Linked DNA regions of Homo sapiens: region 1 is linked to region 2. A link means that fine-mapping ties the variant in region 2 to the expression of a gene that starts in the linked region. Tissue or cell type: whole blood. Region 2 holds a variant in brackets; the other region holds the start of a gene. All regions are shown on one strand. Distances are between the middles of the regions. Region 1 holds the start of UBE2O (ubiquitin conjugating enzyme E2 O). Region 2 overlaps UBE2O (ubiquitin conjugating enzyme E2 O).

Region 1 (12,198 bases), 25 kb before region 2:
GGCACCCTAGCCTTCCCAAACACCTGCTCCAGGGTGGAAGGAGCTCTTTGGGCCAGGCTGAAATCGCTTGCACAGCAATGGAGAGGCCAAGCAGGCTCCCGCAGAGGGCAGTGTTGGGCCTGAGCATACTTTGTGGGTCCAGAGAGGTGCTCCAGTGGCTGGTTAAGATAGGGACGAGACAGGGCCTGCTTCCCTGAGACCAGTTCACTCTGCTGCTGGCTCTGCCGCCTCCTGCACACCACCCACCCCACTTAGCAAGGGGAGAGGCCAGACCAGCTCAGTTTCTGGAAGCACATTTATAAATAAGTGAAATCCTCCCAAGAAATAGCTCTATTCCCCACGAAAGGCTGGGAGATGGGGCCATGATAAGAGAGGGTTTCTTCATTAGGGAATCAAGTTTTTTTCCTCCTTCCTACACCTCAACAATGACAAAAATAAAAACTAAGCAGCGGCTTCCATCCACACTTACCCTGCTAGCCAGCCTGAGTGTATGGAGACCGTGGCTGGGGGCTCAGGGTCTGGGAAGGAGTCAAGCCTCAAACCTTATCCAGAGCATCTTGGGTCTGAGTGAGGTCCATAAAAGACACCATCGGATGGGTAGGAATTTACTGAGTCTCATTCTCTAAAGCAGCTCAGATGCAGTTGAAACTGGGGGCACTTGAAAGGATTTGGAGCAGCCAAAGAGGGCAGCTCTGTCCCAGCTTCTTCAACTTTTGGTTGTTGGAAAAAGGATAGGAAACTGACAGAATGGAGGTACAGGTTCTCAGGCCTTTGATATCCGCTAACATGATAATTTTCTTTTTTTCTTTTTCAAGACGGAGTCTTGCTCTATCTCCCAGGCTGAAGTGCAGTGGCACAATCTCAGCTCACTGCAGCCTCCGCCTCCCGGGTTCAAGTGATTCTCCAGCCTCAGCCTCCTGAGTAGCTGGGATTTCAGGCGCCCGCCACCAAGCCTGGCTAATTTTTGTATATTTAGTAGAGATATGGTTTTGCCATGTTGGCCAGGTCTCAAGCTCCTGACCTCAGGTGATCCACCCACCTTGGCCTCCCAAAATGCTGGGATTACAGGCGTGAGCCACTGTATGGGCCTAGCCTAATACGACACATTATTGAGCTCCATCCCTATGCCAGGTACTGTCCTAGGCACCAGGGTTACACACACAAATACAACATGGTCCACATGCTTAAGGGTTTAGTCTAGTGAGGGAGAGATCAGCATGTAAAATCAAGGAGTCTTACCTCCAACCTGGCAGTATCCTGATAATCTATGTAAAGCACTTAGTAGAGTATCTGGCATGAAGTTACAGCTCAATAAGTGATAGCTATTATTAGCCATTATTACAAGAAGCCGCAGAATAAACACAACACGTCTTCCAGGAGTGCCGATATTACTCAATGATTAGGGAGGAAAGGGCATTAGTTTTTACATTAAAACAACAAACATAGGCATACTCTGGAGTACAATGCAAAACTCACTTGATTTTTTGACAACAAAAGCAGATTTGAGGCCGGGTGCGGTGGCTTATGCCTGTAATCCCAACACTTTGGGAGGGCAAGGCGGGTGGATCATTTGAGGTCAGGAGTTCGAGACCAGCCTGGCCAACATGGTAAACCCCGTCTCTACTAAAAATACAAAAATTAGCCAGCCGTGGTGGTGGGCGCCTGTAATCCCAGCTACTCAGGAGGCTGAGGCAGGAGAATCGCTGGAACCTGGGAGACGGAGGTTGCAGTGAGTCAAGATCACGCTACTGCACTCCAGCATGGGCGACAGAGTGAGACCCTGCCATGAAACAAAAAGCAGATTTGAGGTCTGCACTGCCTTATCCCGCCGTGGGACACATAGACACATGGACTCCCCTGTGCAATCAGGAGTTCTTCTGAGGGAAGCCTAAAGAAATAGCATAACTACAAAAGCCCCTGCCCTTAGAGTGGGGAAACTCCTCAGGTTACTACCTGTTACCTTAGGCGCCAAATTCCTTGGGCCCTATTTCTTCATTGGTAAAATGAGGTTAAAAACTCTCTATATCCAAGATTGTGATAACAGACAAGATAATGTGCTTGGAAGTACCTGGTACAATGCCTGGTCAATAATATGTGCTTAATAAATGCTATGTTATCAGGGGGCAAGAAAACAGGGCTGAAAGGGTCATGGGAGGCAGAACAGAAGCTACTATGTTACTGCTGTTTAATCTCCCAGGTCTCTACAGGAGAGGGAGTAGGGACCTGCGTCCTTACAGCAGTGATTCCAGATGGTCATTTGGCATTGTGTTCTGGGATGGGAAGGCCATGGTTTGAGAACCCAGCCTTGCCCCAAAATCATATCCTAACTCCCCCTTCAGCTGATTCAGCCCATTTGTTCTATATCTTAGTAGATAAATTTTCTAAGATTTGGGTCCATTGACAACCACCCTGATCCCAATATTACATCAATACTCTATTAGTACTTGGCCTAAGACATCTTAAGTACTTAGGCTGCCATCTGTTTTGTGCATGTTCTTTTTTTTTTTTTTTTTCCTGAGATGGAGTTTTGCTCTTGTTGCCCATGCTGGAGTTCAATGGCTCGATCTTGGCTCACCACAACCTCCACCTCCCGGGTTCAAGTGATTCTCCTGCCTCAGCCTCCTGAGTAGCTGGGATTACAGGCATGGGCTACCATGCCTGGCTAATTTTGTATTTTTAGTAGAGATGGGGTTTCTCCATGTTGGTTAGGCTGGTCTTGAACTCCTCACCTCAAGTGATCCGCCTGCCTCAGCCTCCCAAAGTGCTGGGATTACAGGCGTGAGCCACCGTGCCCGACCTTGTGCATGTTCTTTTAACTTTTCTCTCTCTTTTTTTGAGACGCAGTCTCGCTCTGTCGCCCAGGCTGGAGTGCAGTGATGTGTTCTTGGCTCACTGTAACCTCCTGCTCCCGGGTTCAAGCGATTCTCCTGCATCAGCCTCCCGAGTAGCTGGGACTACAAGCATGCGCCACTACACCTGGCTAATTTTGTGTTTTTAGCAGAGACGGGGTTTCACCATGTTGGCCAGGGTGCTCTTGAACTCCTGACTTCAAATGATCCATCTGCCTTGGCCTCCCAAAGTGCTGGGATTACAGATGTGAGCCACCACACCCAACCAACTTTTCTATGAACATAGTTCTGTATCTTCAGGATCCTGTAAACAACACAAAGAGCTGGGATTCTGCCTTCTTTGAAGAACCTAAATACTGTAATATCCAACTTACTAGTCTTTCGTTGATGATCGTGTAGAAAAATGTGGAAAAAATGATGTTGACTGAGAAAGGTTAGGGCCAGATCTTGTTTTCCTTAACAATCCATTTAAATCTGTCCTCTGAGAATGTATCTAAACCCTTTGAAACTTAGGTGACACATTAAATTAGAGTTAGTTTTTTTCTTTTGAGATAGAGTCTCACTCTGTCACCCAAGCTGGAGTGCAGTGGTGTGATCTAGGCTCACTGCAACCTCCAACCCCCAGGTTCAAGTGGTTCTCGTGTCTCAGCCTCCCAAGTAGCTGGAATTACAGGCGCCTGCCACCTTGCCCAGCTAATTTTGGATTTTTAGTAGACATGGGGTTTTGCCATGTTGGCCAGGCTAGTTTTGAACTCCTGACCTCAACTGATCCACCCACCTTGGCATCCCAAAGTGTTGGGATTTCAGGCGCAGTCAAAGTGTTGGGATTTCAGGCGTGAGCCACTGTGCCCGGCCTAGAGTTACTTTTTTTTGAGACGGAATCTCACTCTGTCGCCCAGGCTGGAGTGCAGCGGCGCGATCTAGGCTCACTACAACCTCCACTCCCCAGGTTCAAGTGATTCTCCTGCCTCAGCCTTCCGAGTAGCTGGGATTACAGGCGGCTGCCACCGCGCCCGGCTAATTTTTGTATTTTTAGTAGAGACAGGGTTTCACCATCTTGGCCAGGCTGGTCTTGAACTCCTGACCTCGGGTCTCCCACCCGCCTCGGTCTCCCAAAGTGCTGGGATTACAGGCAAGAGCCACCACATCCAGCCTTTTTTTTGTTTTTTGTTTTTTGAGACAGAGTCCTGCTCTGTTGCCAAGGCTGGAGTGTAGTGGCATGATCTCGGCTCACTGCAACTTCTGCCTCCCAGATTCAAGCAATTCTCCTGCCTCAGCCTCCCAAGTAGCTGGGACTACAGGTGCACACCACCACGCCCAGCTAATTTTTGTACTTTTAGTAGAGAAGGGATTTCGCCATGTTGGCCAGGGCGGTCTTGAACTCCTGACCTCAGGTGATCAGGTGATCCATCTGCTTCTGCCTCCCAAAGTGCTGGGATTACAGGCATGAGCCACCACGCCTGGCCCTAGAGTTACTTTTTATATTTTATTTATTTTTATTTATTTATTTTTTTGAGACAGAGTCTTGCTCTGTTGCCCAGGGTGGAGTGCAGTGGCGCGATCTGGGCTCACTGCAACCTCAGCCTCCCAGGTTCAAGCGATTTGCCTGCCTCAGCCTCCTGAGTAGCTGGGACTACAGCCATGTGCCACCACGCCCAGCTATTTTTTTTTTTTTTCCGTATTTTTAGTAGAGATGGGGTTTCGCCATGTTGGCCAGGATGGTCTCAATCTCTTGACCTCGTGATCCGCCCACCTCAGCCTCCCAAAGTACTGGGATGACAGGTGTGAGCTGCCGCGCCCGGCCTACTTTTTATATTTTAAAATGACAATATGGAGCAGACCATAACAGTTCTGCCAGTCTGGAATTTAGTCTAGGCAGGGAGTTTGGAAATAGTACAACAATGGTTAAGCTTATCGAAGGAGCTAAATGCCAGGCACTGTTCTACTTCACTTAATCCTCCAATTGCCCAATGAGATGAGTATTGCTATTATCATCCCTATTTCACAGATGAGCAAATTAAGATGAAAATAAGTTAATCAGTGTGCCTATTTTTATAGATTAGTAAGTGGCAGTGCCAAAAATTGGAATCCGTGGTCCCCACTCTTAGCTACCTTACTATACTACCTCTTGCCATTCATTCTTGGCTTCAGGGAGCTTTGAATTTATCTGCATGGATTTGTAGCCAAACCACTGGGACCACTGATCCTTTTGTTACCTTTCTCTGGGCCTCCTTCACCAGCTTCTGGGTCAACTTCTGAGGGGTCATGACGTTCGAACTGCTTGGAATTCCTGAATACAGTGCATTATACATATGCTCTACACGTATCTATTATAGCCTTACAAGTTGGAGTTGTTTGTTATCTATTTAATGTGTATTTGTTTTGTCTCCCCAACTAGACTGGAAACACCTAGAGGACAGGGACAGTATCTTTCTCTTTCTGCAATGCTCCCAGTGCCTGGGGGCTAGGCTAGGACGCCAAGGGAGCTCATTAAAAGTTGTTGACAGTCTCTCCACCATCCTGTGCCCCACCCCGACCACTCCCCTCTTCCTCGGTGGCCACTCCACTTCCTCCTCCCGGGTCCCCGCCCCTTCTCGCTCCCTTTAGTTGAATCCTCACTGGTCTCGCCCCTTCTTAGTGGATTCCATCCTGCCCCCGCCCCCCGCGGCATCTTCAGCGTCCCCTAGCGACGAGGCGGTGGCTCCTAGCAACTGCATCCCGGCTCCCTGACGACGGCGCCACGCAGGGACACGTCAGCGCGCTATGGCCCCGCCCCCGGCGCCCGCTGGTCCCGCCTCCCCGCGCCTCGTTCGCCGCCGCTGTCGCCGCCGCCGCCCGAGACTCGCGCAGAGCAGTTATGGCGGATCCCGCAGCCCCCACGCCCGCAGCTCCCGCTCCAGCCCAGGCCCCGGCTCCAGCCCCGGAGGCAGTCCCGGCCCCAGCCGCAGCCCCCGTCCCGGCGCCGGCGCCCGCCTCGGACTCGGCCTCCGGGCCGTCCTCGGACTCCGGCCCAGAAGCCGGCTCGCAGCGCCTGCTGTTTTCTCACGACCTGGTGTCGGGCCGTTACCGTGGCTCCGTGCACTTCGGGCTGGTGCGCCTCATCCACGGCGAGGACTCGGACTCGGAGGGCGAGGAGGAGGGCCGCGGGAGCTCGGGGTGCTCCGAGGCCGGGGGCGCGGGCCACGAGGAGGGCCGGGCCAGCCCCCTGCGCCGCGGCTACGTGCGCGTCCAGTGGTACCCGGAGGGCGTCAAGCAGCATGTGAAGGAGACCAAGGTGCGGCGGGCGGGGGCTGGGCGGCGCGGGCGGCAGGGGGTCGGCGGCCGGGCCGAGGCCAGGGAAGGACGGCGTGCAGGGCCCTGCCCGGAGCGGTGCCACTGCAGTGGCCGACGCGGGAGGACAGCCCCAGTGGAGGGTACACTCCATGCAAAGTCATTGCAGCAGCTCTGGGCGCACACGCCAGCCAGGCACTGCTGGCCCGGGACCGGGCGGGCCCTGGGCTTCCCGACTTGAGGGGACTTCTAAGACATGTTATGCTGTGGTGTCGGCCTCGAGATTTAGAGACGTGGACCGACTCCCGTGGGGACTCAGGTTCTGGGGCGCGTTCGGCGTTACACCAGTGCGGCGTTTTGCTGACCCCCAAGGAGCTCGGTACTGCATTGTGCATCCAGAAATGAAGGCCGTGCCGGGTCCGTGCAGGGAGGGGTTGTGGGCATTCCAAAACAAAGATAGAGGTGAAAATCCCAGCCGAACCCAAGAAGTTCACTAGCTTACAGGCTGCATTATGGTGAAGCCACCCAGCCTCTTTTTGTTTTACCCTGCTGCCTCCTTTTAATTGCTGCAGGGAACTTTGTGAGTAAAATCATTAGCAATCAGAGCCCCGGTATGAATAGTACTTGGGGGGGAGGATTCTGACAGCTGCGACCGGGATTGATGACTCCTAAGTGCATATGGACTCCTTGAAAAAAATAATCCAGAACCCTGGGTAGAGGGGAGTCACCAATTTGGAAACCCGAAGGTTTTTTCTTGACCTGAAGCTGTTAAGCAGACATCTGACTCCCGTATGGTTTTTGGGGTGATGCTAGTGAGTATAGCAGTTTTACAAAACAAAGAGGCTTGTCATCATAAACCCGAAACCTTGAACCCGGGTTGGTTTGGTGGCTTGTTTTCCAGAATGTGAATTCCTATCAGTAATTGACACACACACACACACACACACACCCCCCTGTATCTCACACCCCTTCTTTCTCTCCTACTTCCCCTCCCCTTCAAGAAAACATTTCTAAGCAGGAATCAGGCCTACGCTGTTTTAGGTCCTTGGGAGGTTGAGAGGTCTGATTTCAGGGGAGGGCACTTTGGAAGTTGATCTGGGTTTCTCACACAGTGGGAGACAAAGACTACAGAGGAACGGGGTTTCATGTCAAACTACAAAGCGGGGTCTGTGACAACGGCTTGAGAAGGAAAAAGGCCCCACTCCAGAGAAGAGCACATGATCCATTTCCTAGAGGCAGAAGTGACTGCTGATACCAGCGGGGTCTTTTTGTTGGGGATGCACATACATCCACAGACACAAATCCACACACAGGACCCTGCTTCCCCTCAGAGAAATGTGAATCAGGCAACAGCTCTGAGACTTGGAAGGAAAATTATCAGTCCATTTACAAGAGTATTTGGAAAATATTACTTTTGTGCAACAGAATGCTTGTTAAAAATTACCCAGTATTGTGTCAGTAAAAGAGGGTTATTGCTGTATACTGTGTGACACCAGATGATTGCTGGTGTCTTTCTGTGAGTTTTTAAGAATGTTTTTCACCACCCATCTATTTGAGAGATTCGTGATTTTTGGAACGCAACTCATTTGACTGCAGCATCCTCTGTGTTGTGGCCTCCTGCCCTAGGACTCAGGGAGGTAGGCCCAGCTCACTACTGGGAGCCGCTATGTTTATCAGTTGTTGTTCCCGTCCGTCTTGACTTTGGTGGTTAACTTTGTTTGCAGTTATGCTCCGTTTGCCTCCTGCACTATGTGTAATTATACAGAGTTTGACTTGAAATACCTATTTTGGAGTTAAATCGAAAACAACGGCCGGGTGTGGTAGCTCATGCCTGTAATCCCAGCACTTGGGAGGCCGAGGCGGGCGGATCACCTGAGGTCAGGAGTTCGAGACCAGCCTGACCAACATGGAGAAACCCTGTCTCTACTAAAAATACAAAATTAGCTGGGCTTGGTGGCGCATGCCTGTAACCTGAGCTACTCGGGAGGCTGAGGCGGGAGAATTGCTTGAACCAGGGAGGCGGAGGTTGCGGTGAGCTGAGATGGCACCATTGCACTCCAACCTGGGCAGCAAGAGTTAAACTCTGTCTCAAAAGAAAAGAAAAAAAAAACAACAACTTTGAGGCACCACTTTGGATAGATTTTGCAGCTGGCCTCCTGTGACTTGCTTTGAATTTGTTGAAATCCGTTTTGTGGCTCGGTGGTGGTATTTTGTCATTGTAGCATCTGGGTTTAGCAAAAGCCAAGGGACGCAGAAATTCCAAGGAAGTGGTGGAATGGGATGCCCATTTATGGGTGGCAAGATATAGTTCTTTTAGGATTTAGAATAGGTTTGTTTTGGAGGGTGGAGTTTATACCTGATAGGTAGCTCTGTTACCATGAGCTATAGATACAGGTGACTGATTAGCTGAATGTCTCCTGGTCTGTTACTGACCACCAAGCAGGGTGGTAGGGTGGGTCCTGGGACCTTGCAGAACTGTGGCTTAGGATGATTTTTCTTCTCACCTCCTGCTCCTTATGAATTCCATCAAGGTGATAGTATGCCGTAAAGGAAAGACCATTAGACCAAGATTGACTAATCTAGTTATGAGATTTGAGAACCCAATTATTGACAAAATAATGTAGTGGCAGATTTTTTTTTTTTTTTGAGTTACTGGTTTGTTTATTATTTTTGGGATGGGGTCTCACTGTTACTCAGGTGTCCTTGAATTCCTGGTCTCACACAATCCTCCTGCCTCAGCCTCCCAGGTAGCTGGGACTACAGTAGTGATGGTTTTGAGAAACTTATTTTTTATTTATTTATGTTTTTGAGACGGAGTTTTGCTCTTGTTGCCCAGGCTGGAGTGCAATGGCGCCAGCTCGGCTCACCGCAACCTCTGCCTCCCGGGTTCAAGCGATTCTCCTACCTCAGCCTCCCGAGTAGCTGGGATTACAGGCATACGCCATCACGCCCGGCTAATTTTTTGTATTTTTAGTGGAGACGGGGTTTCTCCGTGGTGGCCAGGCTGTTCTTGAACTCCTGACCTCAGGTGATCCGCCCGCCTCGGCCTCCCAAAGTGCTGGGATTACAGGCAGGAGCCACCGCACCCGCCCGAAACTTATTTTTTTTAATAAGCTGCTACCTATTGAAAATTTTTGTGTGTGAGTTTCTTTTTTAAACAGAGTCTCTCTCTGTCACCCAGGCTGGAGTGCAGTGGCACGATCTCAGCTCATTACAACCTCAACTTCCCGGGTTCAAGTGATTCTTGTGCCTCAGCCTCCCGCATAGCTGGGATTATGGGCATGCGCCATCACACCCAGCTAATTTTTGTATTTTTAGTAGAGACGGCAGTTTGCCATTTTGGCCAGGCTGGTCTTGAACTTCTGGCCTCAAGTGATTCACCGGCCTTGGCCTCCCCAAGTGCTGGAATTACAGGCATAAGCCACAGTGCCTTGCCCCATTGAAATTTTTTAGTAGTATCTATTTAATGTGGAGTGTTTCATAGGGTGTGGCGTATTTTTGTAGTTTTCTCTGTAAATTGGAGGGCAATGAGTAAAGGCTTAATCTTAGTCTCAAGTTTTTAGTGAACAAATTTACAAAGAGAGATGAAGAGACTGGGCAGCAAGTCATGTCCTTTCCCTGCTGCCTTCATGAAAATAGCAACAGAAACAAAGTAAGTTCTTCCATGAAGCTATGGAATTTGTCGTGTTCCTGAGGCTTCCAGCCACCAAAATTAAGCCTCTTAAGGACTCAAAAGGAGCTAGTGGCCAGTGTCTCTTATATGCTTCTTCCTTTCTCCAGTCTTCTGACCTGTTCAGCGAGGTAGCCACTTGAAACTGTCCATCTGGCCATGGATCTCCTTAGAGGAGGCTTGCCCCTTCCCCATCACCAGTCATCCTTTGAATAAAATTTTGTAACAAAGCCAAATGCCAGCAGCCACTTAAACCTTCATGAGCACTGGCTAGACGTGGTGGGTCCTTCTGGTCTCCACCTGTCATGGTTGGGCAGAACAGCCCCCTGCGAGGTAAGGGAGCAGGACTGCTGTCTGTCAGTTCAAGTTCAGCCTTCGTTTCGGAGGCAAAGCGTTTATGCTTTAGCTTTCTTGTGCTTTTTCATCTCTTTTGCATTGTCTTTTGTTTTAAGTTGCCATGACATTCAGGGTTTCACCAGGTTTGAGATATAGTGCCTCTAAATTAGGGCTGTCTGTGATCACCCTGCTTTTATGAAGCTGTGTGTGTGAAACATCCCTGATGACAGGTCCCTCGGGAATTGGCTTTGCAGTTTATTTTTGGCTCCTACGCTGGCCAGCATTTCCATGGGGAAAGCTATTTAGGTGTAGCATCATGGCACGTGAAGTTTGTCTCACTTGTCTGGGTGCTGGGCCCATTAAAAGCAATTGTTCTTAGTGATGTAATGTGAAGAAGTTATATAAGGTTAACCAAGATGCAGGACTAAGTGAATCTAAATTGCGTTTTATTCAGATAGGATCACAGCACTTGTAGACTCTTAACAGCTGTTCTGTGATTTTATTCTTTGTCCCTTGATTTTTCCCCTTCTAGCCCTCGGGCCTCAGTGCCCTGATGGTGCTTCTGTCTGGCTGCTGCCTGACTCAAGGGTACTTTCCCCAGATGAAGGGTGTGTGTTTTGTACTGTGATTGGAAGCCAAAACCCTTGGGTGCTCTTCCTGGCTGTCACCTACTCTGAATGACCTTGACCAAGTCACTGCCTCATTTTCTCCCTCTGCAATGAAATAAGAGGTCTATCTTCCTAACCCCGATATGATCCTGCTCGGATGGAATAACCAGAAGTGTAGCTGGGTCAAGCCTAGGATGGCCACTTGGTTATTAGCAGACAGCATTCTGATGTCTGTCAGAGAGAGCCAGCCCTGTGCCTTCAGAAGATCACTTCCATGAGAAAGAGGGTGATGCTGCACCAAAGAGGCACCTTGGGAAGCAAAAGGTGCACGAGGCGGGTTGTGGGGAAGGTGGTTGTTTCAGGGGCATAGGAATTCCTAATGGCTCGTGTTGCTAGTGACCAGATGGATTATAGGTTTGACTTTATTAAACCTCTTCTAGAAATACTCATGAACTTCCTACCTCTGTTACTTTGTGAGAAATTCAGTAATGCACATTTAAAGTAACCCCGGCCGTCCTCCAGGAGGGGGATGGAATGAATCTGTATGTATGTATGTATGTTTCCAGAGTCTGAAAGGTCTCTTGAAATTCTCAAGACTGGTAATGAGATTATAAATTACAAAGATGATAGAGTATTGCTTTATATTTTAAGGTAATAAGAGCAGTCATGATCCAGGATACTGTTACTGTGTGCCAGGCACTCTTAGTGCTTTAGATGTTTTACTTCACGCTCACAACAACCCTGTGGTGCTATTATTAGCCCCATATTCCAGAGAAGGAAGCTGAGGAACAGAGAGGTTAAGTAAATTGCCCAGTGTCACACTTCTAAGTGGAGGAATCTGAATACAAATTGAACTAAATGTACTTTGTTCTCACCTGAGAATACTTAAGTTCAGGATTCAGAGATCATTACTATACGTGACCGAGTGCCCTGATCCAACATGAATCACAAGCCTTGTGGTTGGCATTAATCATCCCTTCTTTAAACAGTTGAAAGTCTTAGTGTAATAGGAGGTACTACAAGTGAGGAAGGAGAGAGGCACAGGATGTTGGGATAGGTGGAAGTTGTGCCAGTGGGCAGGCAGGAGGGAGGGAGATGATGGGTAGGGAGCAGGACGGGAGGAACACTGCATTCGCACTGGCGGTGTGCTTCTGCAGATTCCACTCTTTTCATTCCCTGACCCCTCAGTCATTCTCAAAATAACTGTCAAAAACACATTGCATTTCTAGAGAACCTTTGACTGCCCCTCAATGTTGAATGAAGCAACCTCTGTAGTCTGATTCATTCCAACACTGAACTGCAGTTCAGTTTTATTCCCCAACTCCACCTCCTAGAGCAAAACAAGTGTGCAGACACTCCACGTAACTGGCATTTCTGTGTTGCCTCAGAAGTGGTCAGCTCCATTAGGAGCTCCAACTTGACCTCCTGTCCGCTCTGCTGCTGTCATCCTTCGGCTGGGAATGCT
Region 2 (12,198 bases):
ACACTCATCTAATTTCTAAGAGTAGAAGATGTTAGGAGGGCTCGTTTTTGTCTTCTGGTGAGTATAGTTTGAGACAAGTTCTGGTATTTGACTTGAAAAATAGAATTGATAGCACAGGATTTACAGGAAACACTGTAGCTGGGCCTGTAGGCGCGCACCGCCACGCCTGGCTAATTTTCATTTCTTTTTAAGTTTTTTGTAGAGTCACCATCTCACTATGTTGCCCAGGCTGGTCTCAAACTCCTTTCCTCAAGCGATCCTCCTACCTTGGCCTCCCAAAGTGCTGGCATTACAGGCCACCGCACTGGCCGAAACCCCATCTCTCTCTCTCTTTTTTTTTTTTCTGAGATGGAGTCTCGCTCTGTCACCCAGGCTGGAATGCAGTGGCGCAATACTCACTCCACCTCCTGGGTTCAAGCGATCGAGACCCCATCTCTTAAAAAAAAAAAGGTTTATTGAGACAATTCACATACCATAAAATTCACCCTTTTAAAGTGTGCAGTTCAAGTGGTTTTTAGTATACTCAAACGGTTGTACGGTCATCACCGCTATCTAATTTTAGAACATTTTCATCACCCTAAAAAGAAACCTCATACCCATTAGGAGTCATACCATATTTCCCTGCACCCCTCCCAACTCCTGGAAGCCATGTTCTGTCTCTGTGGGTTTGCCTATTTTGGACATTTCATATAAATGGAAGCATACTAGATGTGGCCTTCGTGACTGATTTATTTAACGTGATGTTTTCAAGGTTCATCCATGTTGTAGCATGTATCAGTACTTCATTTGTTTTTATTGTTGAATAATATTCTATCATATGGATAGATCACATTTTGTGTATCCATTCATTAGTTGATGGACATTTGTTGTTGTGTCATTTTCACCTTTTGGCTATTCTGAATAATGCTGCTATAAGCATTCAAGTCCACGTTTTTGTGTGAATGTATATTTTCAATTCTCTTGGATATTATACCCAGGAGAGGAGTTGTTGGGTCGTATGGTAGGTAAATCTATGTTTAGCATTTTGAGCAACTGCCAAACTGCTTTCTGAAGCAACTGCACCATTTTACATACCCACCAGCAATGTTGGTGGGTTCCAGTTTCTCCACATGCTCACCAATGCTTGTGACTGTCACTTTGTTTATAGCCATCCTAGTGGGCATGCATGGGTATTGCATTGTGATTTGGCATGCATTCCTAGTGATGAGTGATGCTGAGCATCTTTTCATGTGCTTATTGGCCATGTGTATATCTTCTTTAGATAAATGTTTATTCAAATAAGTCCTGTGCTTATTTTTGAACTGAGTTTTCTGTTGGTCTGCTTATTACACCCTGCATTTGGATCTTCCCTCTCTCCCATGGAGTCTCGCAGGTGGGCTACCTCTTGTGGCAGGTGCCTGTCAGTGTCATTGGGATCTGTGCTAGCCATTTTGCATTATGTTGGGATTTAACCCCCTTTCCTATTTCAGTATGCTTAAGACCCTTAGAAACTGAAAGGGCTTTAAGTCCTAAGTCTTTCCAGGAACACAGATGTAATTGTTTTAAATCTGGGGCTCCACAAGCATCCTAGGATGAGAAAGGGGTTGCTAAATAGGTTTTCTTGGACAGTGGGCAAGCTTTCAAATATTTACCAGTCACATGTACCGTGGCATGCTGGGTATAAGTCTTTCTAAGGCGGAGACCATACAATCTATTTCTTTTGAGTCTCTCTCATAGTACAATTATAGTACTTCTTACACAGTGGGATGATGAAATATTTGTGGATTGACAGGAACATACTTTGATAACTGAGTCCTTTCCGTAGCAGTTTGACGGGTCTAAGACATGGTTGTGCCGAAATGTGCATGAGAGTGTCGGGTGTGTGTGCCTGGCGATAGGGGGCCTTGAGTTTCCAAAGGCTCTTGGCTGCTGCTGCCTCACAGATTCTCCATGCTGTGTGGCTGTCTGCTGAGGGGCACATGTGCTGCTATTTATGTTTGGTGACTTTCTCAGTGATTGTTTTTAGTTTAGCCTTTTAAGAATCTAATCTAATTTTGTGAGTGTGTAAAGTGTGGATTTATCCATGCCTGCTGCGTGACACTGACAGGGAGTGTCTTCCACCCTAAGCCTGGATCAGTTCTGACTGTCATGGTTAGATCACAGCAATCCATGGGACTTAAACTTTCTTTAACATTTGAAACAAAAAGCCATTTGTAGGAGCGGATGTGTGGCCCTTTCAGGTGTCTGGGGGAGTTTCTAATGGAGCTGTTCTTTTTAAAATTTTTTATTCTTAATTTTACTTTTTCATAGAGATGGAGTCTTGGCCCAGGCTGGTCCCAAACTCCTGGTTTCAAGCAGTCCCCCCCGCTGGGCTTCCCAGCTCCTGGGATTACAGGTGTGAGCCACAGTGTCTGGCCCTAATAGTCTTTCTTTTCCCTACCCACTATTTCACATCTCAGAATAGCAACATGAGGAGAGTCCATCAAAATGAATTGGTGAGTAGGTGAATGTCTGAACTAAGGATGGCTAATTTTTGAATTTGTGATTTCCTGGGTTTTGTTGACTTTTTTTTTGAGACAGAGCACCCTGTCGCCCAGGCTGGAGTGCGATCTCGGCTCACTGCAACCTGTGCCTCCCGGATTCAAGCAATTCTCCTGCCTCAGCCTCCCAAGTAGCTGGGATTACAGGCGTGCACCAGCACGCCCAGCTAATTTTTTTTTGTATCTTTAGTAGAGGCGGGATTTCACCATGTTGGCCAGGCTGCTCTTGAGCTCCTGACTGCAAGTGATCTACCCACCTCAGCCTCCCAAAGTGCTGGGATTACAGGCATGAGCCACCGTGGCCGGCTTTTGTTGACTTATTACTTCTCCTTCATCTTCAGATCTAGTTGTATATAAGTACTTTGCAAAACAAAGATTAAAAACCTCCGGTTGCCTCTTTTTTGGCTGGAACCATGGAGGGTGTCGAAGAGAAGCAGCAGCTTCCTGTTGTGCCAGAAACCCTTGGGAAAAAGCAAAGGAATTTCACAGAACTAAAGATCAAGCACCTGAATAAGAAGTTTGCCCAAAAGATGCTTCAAAAGGCAGGGAGGAAACTTATGCACGAAGAAGTGAAGCACTACCACAAGGAATCTAGGCAGATGTACAGAACTGAAATTTGAAAGGCTAGGATGGCAAGAAAAGCTGGCAACTTTTTTGTGCCTGCAGAACCCGAATTGGCATTTGTCATCAGGGTCAGAGGTATCAGTGGTGTGAGCCCAAAGGGCCAAAAGATGTTGCAGCTTCTTTGCCTTTGTCAGATCTTTAATGGAACCTTTGTGAAGTTCAGCAGACCTTCAGTTAACATGCTGAGGATTGTGAAACCATGTATTACAAGGGGAACCCAAATCTGAAATCAGTAAATAAACTCATCTACAAGCATGGCCGTGGCAAAATCAATAAGAAGCGAATTGCTTTGACAGATAACACTTTGATTGATCAGTCTCATGGTCAATATGGCATCATCTGCATCGAGGATCTGATTCATGAGCTCTATACTGTGGCCCTTCAAGTTATCCTCTCCACAAAGTGGAATGAAGAAAAAGACCACCCATTTTGTAGAAAATGGAGCTGCTGCCAACAGGGAGGGCCAGATCCACAGGCTTCTTAGAAGAATGAACTGCGGTGTCTACCGTGATTATTTTTCTAATCTGGTCAGTTAATAAATAGTACCTGCTCTCAAATTGAAAAAAAAAATCTTCGGTTAGCATACTTTAGGTAAACATGGTAGATTGAACATATTCATTTAAATCTACTTCCCCTAGAAACTCTGCTAAAATAACAGCAAAATAATTGTTTTTAGATGTATAAACCCACAAGGACACAGAATGGGAGAGAAAACAATAACAAAAGATCTCCAATTTCTAGAAGGTGGAAGGCAAACAGAAGACTGAGCAGAGCAGAGGCTGAAATGTTGGTACCTGCGGAAAAACACCAAGGAAAAGCACTTTAGAAAGCATCAGGAATTGGAGGCAATTGGTGGCACTCAAGGTGGGAATAAGGTTTGGGCCTAAAAGCAGAGGGATTATGATTAGTTGACAGTCTGTATAGGGAGGGATGAAACTTCCCAAGTCATCTCTTTGAATTCTGCAAACCAGAAAATACTCAATCCCCTTTGCTGGCGAGTGAGAGAGCAGAGGCTTATGCACCAGATTGAGGTACCTTGGGCAGAGCAAGGGGCAGGGTAACGCTGGACTGAAAGAGGGATTCATGAACGTCTGCACACTAAAAGAGCAAATCCCAGCCATGCCCCTGCCTGCTCCTGGAGTGCTGAGGCCAGGCATGAGGCATGGCATTGGATTCCAGTCTGGAAAAAATGAGCATGTCAGCAACAAGACCTGCCATTGCCAGTATGTAGTGGCTCCTCACAGCAGTGGCCAGCTTTCTACTCCATCTAATGTGGTCCTCACCTGTCCAGAGCCTTGCTTATGTTCACAGGGTTTCTATCATCTTTTTATCACCTCAACTTTTTTAACTTTTTTTTTTTTTTTTTTTTTTTGAGACAGAGTCTCACTCTGTCACCCAGGCTGGAGTACAGTGGTGTAATCTTGGCTCACTGCAACCTCTGCCTCCCAGGCTGAAGCACTTCTCCCACCTCAGCCTCCCAAGTAGCTGGGATTACAGCCATGCGCCACCACTCCTGGCTAATTTGTGTGTTTTTTGTCAAGATGGGGTTTTGCCATGTTGCCTAGGCAGGTTTCAAACTCCTGAGCTCAAGTGATCTGCCCACCTCAGCCTCACAAAGTGCTGGGATCACAGGCATGAGCCACCATCCCCAGCCCAACTTTTTATTTTGAAATAATTATAGATGCATAGGAAGTTGCAAACATAGTAGAGGGCTGGCTGGACGCGGTGGCTCATGCCTGTAATCCCAGCACTTTGGGAGGCCGAGGCGGGCAGATCACGAGGTCAGGAGTTCGAGACCAGCCTGGCCAACATGGTTAAACCCCGTCTCTACTAAAAATACAAAAATTAGCCGGGCATGGTGGCATGCGCCCGTAATCCCAGCTACTCGGGAGGCTGAGGCAGGAGAATTGCTTGAACCCAGGAGGCAGAGGTTGCAGTGAACCAAGATCATGCCACTGCACTCCAGCCTGGGCGACAGAGCAAGACTCCATCTCAAAAAAAAAAAAAAAAATAGTAGAGGGGTCCCCTCTACCCTTCATGCAGTTTCCCTTGATGGTCATGTCTTATATAATCACAGACAATATGAAAATCAGGGAATTGACATGGGTACACAATATGTGCATACAGTTTCACACCCTTTATCACATCTGTGGATTCATGTAACCACATGTAACAGCAGTCAAGATACACAACTCTTCCATCACCACAAAGATCTCTTATTGCCTCACTTTTAAATAGGAATGGATGCCAAGAATAACTGGATATGTTCAGAAAGCTTCCAGTATGGAAGGTAGAGGCCAGAGAAAGCAAAGAGAAAAATGTATCTCCGAGGAATCAGAGCTGATTCAGGTAGGAGAAAGCCTTAAAGCACATGGCAAATATACTCAGAAAGAAGAGCCAATATTTTATCCATGAAATAAAAAGTTACTATAAAAATCAGAACAAGAAAGAGTTCTCGGAAATTAAAACCATTACTTTTTCTTTGAAGTTGACGAAGGCTCCCAGGAAACAGATTAAAAACGTCTGACATCTAGGAAGTCTATAAAGAGAGAAAGGGAAAATTAAGGACCATAATGTATCAGAGAAACAAGAATTATTTCAGAATGGACAGTCATAAGTTTCAAAAATGGTAAATGGAAAATGTCCTGTGGCACATTGTGTGATTCCAGAGCACTGGGCATAAAGCTTCCGAAGAGCAAAAA[C/T]GGGTCACATACAAAAGACTGGGAATGAAGATGGATTGGATTTTTCAACCTCATTGGAAGCCAGAAGACAATGGGGTGGATTTCCTGTTTCAGTGACATGGTAGCTTGAGCTAAAGTTAGAACCGCTCCCATTACAATCACTTAAAATGCTATATAAGCTATAACAACAGAATAAGAAAGAAAAACAGAGAACCGAAAGCAAAGCAGGAATATAAAGCCAGAGCAGAGTAGGCAGCTCTGGGGAGGGGCAAGGTGGGTTCATTGGACCCTGAAATCGACCCTAACAATAATAGAGGTTTGGATTTGCATGAACACGTGAAGCATGGAGTTGAAACAGAAATCCCCTCAAAAGAGCCATTCCCAGGTAAAAGGGATGCAAGAAAATTTCCCCCATGGGATCAGAGAAATGTCAAGGGAGCTGATCATTGCCCCACACTCTGGATTGTGTTGGAGGAAGTCTTCTGTGAACAGTGGAAAACATCCAAGTTCTAAGTCTGTGTTTATAACATCTACATGTTGCAGGAATGCCCGAGCTGGCACCAGACCAGCCAGCAGACTGGCGATACCCCTGAAGCTTCTTGCTTGCAGAACAAAGGCAGAACTTTTCTAGAGTGACCCTTGCACAGTACAGGCCTTTTGGAATCCTAGGATGCCCACAGATGATGAGCTTGTTCTAGGAAATTACCAAGCATGTAGAAATTAGAACATGAGTCAGCGATCACAACAAACACAAGATTCTCAACATGAGAATTCAAATAATAGAAGAGATTATAATAGAAATGTCTAAAGTGATTGAAGGGCTAAAAGAAGAAATAGATGTCAAAGGAAAGAATAAGACAGAATACATCTTAAAAGGGATTATTTTTTAAAGAATCAAATAAAGCCTCTAGAGTGAAAACATTGAGTTAAAACCCCAGTGGAAATGTTAAACAGCAAATAGCATAAATTCTCAAGAGAGAACTATGGGAACTGGAAAACAGATCTGCAGAAGTTAGTTAGAATTCTGCAGAGATAAAAGAGATGCTTGTGAGGAAGAGACATTACAAACATGGATGGTGGTATGAGGGCCCAGTGGGAAAAATAGCATCCTAAAGGCAGCTTGAGAAGAAAGGCAGATTACTCCCCAGGTTCAACAGTGAAACTCAGGAAATGCCAAGTAGCAACAGTAGAGGCCATAAGGAAGTAAAATCTTCAGTGTGCTAAGGAAAATCAGTTGTTGGCTTAGTTTTCAGCAACCAGCTTAAATTATCGTTCAATAATGGGAACAAATAAGGACATTTTCACAGAAAAAAAAAAAAGTTGTATTTACTAAGAGACCTTCGCTGTACTTCGGGAAGAAGGAAGTAAGGAGAAAGGAGAAATGCGGACAGTAATGGTATCCAGAGGCGTTGGGAAGTGCAGGTAAATCTGAATAAGCATTCGCTTCTGAAAGTGATCGTCACTAATTTGGAGAGGATTAAAAACCAAAGTCCCAACAAAAAATGGAAATCAGTGAGGGGGTGATTTGAATGAACACACTCTTAAGTTCTTTGAACTGTTTGGGAAGTGTAGGAGGGATATTGATTGACTTCAAACTTTCTGAGTCAAGTAGACATGTTCCAATTTTAAGGGTAACCACCAAAAGAATAGAAATAGTGTTTAAAGCTTTCAAACTCACAGAGGGTAAAAATATGGAATTTTAAAACTAGGTCATTTGTCTAAAAGAAAGAGAGCAAAGAAAAAATATGGTAGCCAGAAAGCCCTAAAGGTAGTAGAAATAAATCCACATGGATCACAATGAAAGTAAACAATTATATGTGCCAGTTAAGACAGGTACTCAGACTGGAAGACAGCAGAGCAAATCCTGCAACATTCTGAGAGAATTCCGTATCCAGCCCAACTACGTCAAGTAGAGTAGAAAAAAGTTCTTTTGGCTGGGCATGGTGGTTCACGCCTGTAATCCCAGCACTTTGGGAAGCCAAGACAGGAGGATCGCTTGAGCCCCGTTCGAGACCAGCCTGGGAAACATGGCAAAACCCTGTCTCTACAAAAAAATACAAAAATTAGCCAAGTGTGGTGTTGTGCATCTGTAGTCCCAGCTACTCAGGAGGCTGAAGTAAGAGGATCATTTGAGCCCAGGAGGTTGAGGCTGCAGTGAACCATGATCACACCACTACACTCCAGCCTAGGTGACAGAGTGAGACCCTCCTTTTAGGCATGTAAGGGCTGGAAAAAAAGTGCCTCCTGTGAACCTCTTGTGGGGAGGAGATAGAAGGAGTTGTTCTTCACCAAAACCAGGGACTTTTCCCAGGATCCAGGAAACGGGATCTGACACAGGTGAGCGGCAGAGGAAAGTCTGAGTTAGAGAGACAGGATGGAATTCTGCAGGAGGGAGAGAGATCGACAAGAAAAAGACACAAAGCCCAAAGATACCTGATCGATAATTTGTAGGTAATTTGAAGATATTTAGAAAAGTTATGGATAGGTATTTGACAAAAGTATCAATATGTACATAGTTGTGTGAGGACACGGAACACCACTTGGTTCAGCTGTGAGCTCTGTCCTCCATCATAACACATTTAGATTTTTCAATTAATGCAGTGGAACTGTTGAAAGGATGGAGTACAGGCAAAGGGCTTCAGAGGGGAGGGTAAGAGTTAGGTCATCAGGTACCAAAACAGGACGTCAATAGATAATGTCTATAATAAGTTAGGAATTAGGGTGCAAGCATGTTGTTTATATGTATGGAGGTAAATATTCAAACAGCTAAAAAATTAAAAAGTATTTGCTTCAAAAGAGCACAGTTGAGAGGGTAAGATGGGGGACTGCCTGTTTTTGTTAAGCCTTTTAGTACTATGTTTTTTTTTTAACTTAGGCATGCATTGTTTTGATACAATTAAGCTAAACTATTATTTAAAAAAATACAATATGAGCCAAGTAGGTCCTTTAAAATTTTTTAGTGACCACATTTTTTTCTTTTACTTTTTTTTTTTTTTTTTTTTTTTTTGTCGAAAGGACCTTGAGAAGTGACCACATTTTAAAAACATTAAAAGAAACAGGTGAACCGGGTGCGGTGGCTCACGCCTGTAATCCCAGCACTTCAGGAGGCCCAGACGGGTGGATCACGAGGTCAGGAGATCGAGACCATCCTGGCTAACATGGTCAAATCCCGTCTCTACTAAAAATACAAAAAAGTTAGCTGGGCGTGGTGGCGGGTGCCTGTAGTCCCAGCTACTCGGGAGGCTGAGGCAGGAGAATGGCATGAACCTGGGAGGCGGAGCTTGCAGTGAGCTGAGATCGCGCCACTGCACTCCAGCCTGGGTGACAGGGTGAGGGCGAGACTCTGTCTCAAAAAAAAAAAATAAAAAATAAAAAAAAAAAAAGAAACAGGTGAAATTAATTTTGGAGGTAGAGGTGGATGGAGTCTTGCTCTGTTGCCCGGGCTGGAGTGCAGTGGCTCGATCATAGCTCATTGTAACCTCAAACACCTGGCTTAAGGGATCCTGCTGCCATTTTTTTATGTAGAGATAGGGTCTTACTCTGTTGCCCAGGCTGGTCTTGAACTCCTGGCCTCAAGCAATCCTCCCACCTTGGCTTCCCAAAGTGCTGGAATTACAGACATGAGCCACCTCACTCAGCCAGAAATTAATTTTAATGTTTTATTTAACTCAGTATATATCCAAGATACCATTTCAGAATGTAACGAATATAAAAAATACTAGTGGGCTGGGCACGGTGGTTCACGCCTGTAATCCCAGCACTTTGGGAGGCTGAGGTGGGCGAATCACGTGAGGTCAGGAGTTCGAGACCAGCCTGGCCAATATGGTGAAACCCTGTCTCTACAAAAATACAAAAAATTAGCAGAGTGTGGTGGCTCACACTTGTAATCCCAGCTACTGGGGAGGCTGAGACAGGAGAATCGCTTGAACCTGGGAGACAGAGGTTGCAGTGAGCCTAGGTTGTGCCATTGCACTCCAGGCTGGGCAACAAAAGTTAAATTCTGTCTCAAAAAAAAAAAAAAAAAAGGCCGGGCGCGGTGGCTCACGCCTGTAATCCCAGCACTTTGGGAGGCCGAGACGGACGGATCACAAGGTCAGGAGATCGAGACCATCCTGGCTAACATGGTGAAACCCCGTCTCTACTAAAAATACAAAAAAATTAGCTGGGCATGGTGGCGGGGGCCTGTAGTCCCAGCTACTCAGGAGGCTGAGGCAGGAGAACGGCGTGAACTTGGGAGGTGGAGCTTGCAGTGAGCCAAGATCGCGCCGCTGCACTAGCACTACAGCCTGGGTGACAGAGCGAGACTCCGTCTCAAAAAAAAAAAAAAAAAAAAAAAGAACCCAACCTGGAAGTAGCTGAGAGCCACCTGGTGTGAAGAGAGGAAGTCTCCTCTCCTGTGTTCTGGTTCCTTTGCGGACACTGTGCCGTAGGCCACCTCTATCAATTATGTCCTGGGCCTGAATCTTCAGGCTCTCCCTTGGCAGCTTCCTGCCTGACCTTATTTTTTATTTATTTATTTATTTATTTATTTATTTATTTTGAGATGGAGTGTCCCTCTGTCACCCAGGCTGGAGTGCAGTGTTGTGATCTCGGCTCACTGCAAGCTCCGCCTCCCAGGTTCAAGCGATTTTCCTGCCTCAGCCCCCCAAGTAGCTGGGACTATAGGTACGTGCCACCATGCCTGGCTAATTTTTTGTATTTTTAGTAGAGACTGGGTTTCACCATGTTAGCCAGGATGGTCTTGATCTTCTGACCTCATGATCCTCCCACCTCGGCCTCCCGAAGTGCTGGGATTACAGGCATGAGCCACCACGCCGGGCCCTCATTTTTATTTTTACTGTATTTATTTTTTAGAGATAGGGTCTTACTCTTGTCACCCAGGCTGGAGTGCATTGGCACAATCAGGGCTCACTGCAGCGTCGAATTCCTGGGCTTAAGCAATCCTCCCACCTCAGCCTCTTGAGTAGCTGGGGCTCCAGGTGCGTACCACCGTGCCCAGCTTGACCCCATTTTTAATGTCTTGAAAAGAGACCCTTCCTCAGCCCACATCCACCCCCTCACCTACCTCTTCCTCCTTTTCCTGCTCTTCAGCCGTAGTTCCTGAATGAGCTCCATGCTGTGATTCCTGTTTCCTGCATTGCCAGATGTTCTCCAGGCCCCGCCATTGGGGATTCTGCCCACGCCACCCATTGGGACTGCTGAGCCCAGGTCAGCAGGGACACTTCCCCGTGGCACTGGATCTCTCAGCAGCATCAGGCATTGCTAGCCACTCCTTTCTTGACACTTGTTCCCAATTCCCATGGCTTTTCCTTCAGCTGTCTCTAGTGACTCCTCAGAGGCACCCTTCTGTGTTCCAGGCACTTGCTGGGGTGCACTGGTGCCCAGTGCCTGCCCTTGTGTGGTTCACATTCTAACCCCCATGGGGCACACAGACTGCAGGTGTGGGAACAGTAAGTGCTGTGAAGAAAAATAAAGCAGGTGGATAGAGAATGAGGAGGAGCAATTCCAGACAGGGTGGCCAGAGAAGCCCTTCTGAGGAGGTGACATCTGAGCAGAAACTTGGGTGCAGCTATCTGGGGGAACATTTGAGCCATGGCTGTTCCCTGTGGTGGCCACACCTCCCCAAGCCTGGCGTGCCTCGGCTTCATTGCAGATGGAACCTCCGTCCTGCTCGGACACCTGCAGGACTGTCTCGTGTTCCAGATGTTTCATTGGCATCTGGCACAGCGTCTGCCCACCCAGTGGTTATTCAGTTTGCTGAATGGGCGAGGGAACAACTGAATGGATGGTCTACAGCATATGATGAACGGGAGGAAGAGGCCACTGGGTGCCCAGACCTTATGACAGAGCAGGTTGTGTCTGTGTCAAGCCCTTGCTGGAGGAGAGATGGGACTTGAGCTCAGCCTGGGAAAAGCCAGGTTAAAGTGAGCCGCCCTTTGCCCATGCCCTCTCCCCGTGTTGTTCATTTAGGTCGTGCTTCCACACATCATCTTCCCTTTCAGGACCACTCAGGCTGTGAATGAGTGGAGTGACTGAAATAGTTGGGAGCCATTGAGGAAAAGCCGGAGAGAGAGGCCACGAGAACTAGCATTTTGGGGTTACTTAGCACACGTCCCATTACTTATCACACATAGAGGTCTCAAAAACATCACCACAGGCCTGCCTGACCCTCCTGTGGCTTGGTTGTCCCTTAAAGGAAGGACACAGCAGATCCTTTGAGACATCTCCATCTTCCCATTTTCCTCCACCTGGGATTTGTGGTCCTTGAGCACTCTGGATGCAGATCCATTGGAGAGGGGATGGGTCCTCAGATGCAGTCTGGTGGCGTCATCTTGTCTTTTCCAGACTCCTGGCCAGCGACTTGTTGACTTCCT

What was found. PIP is the estimated chance that this variant, and not a neighbour inherited with it, causes the effect.
Region 1: it holds the start of UBE2O, and the variant in region 2 is fine-mapped to the expression of UBE2O in whole blood (TOPMed, PIP 0.98).

Annotation. Positions count from the first base shown.
Region 1 is chr17:76,446,650-76,458,847 of GRCh38, reverse strand. It overlaps UBE2O (ubiquitin conjugating enzyme E2 O), which reads left to right and starts at 5,696. Exons shown (of 18, transcript NM_022066.4): 1 at 5,696-6,123. The coding sequence starts at 5,707. It also overlaps a transcript of AANAT not described here. RefSeq lists an enhancer at 150-229 and silencers at 5,522-5,690, 5,485-6,024, 6,145-6,344.
Region 2 is chr17:76,421,859-76,434,056 of GRCh38, reverse strand. All of the region lies in intron 1 of UBE2O (ubiquitin conjugating enzyme E2 O), which reads left to right. It also overlaps the pseudogene RPL7P49. Among named protein-coding and RNA genes, the nearest start is that of UBE2O, 25 kb to the left of the region's middle. RefSeq lists enhancers at 1-196, 10,521-11,020, 11,021-11,522. The variant C/T (reference allele first, on the strand shown) is at 5,846.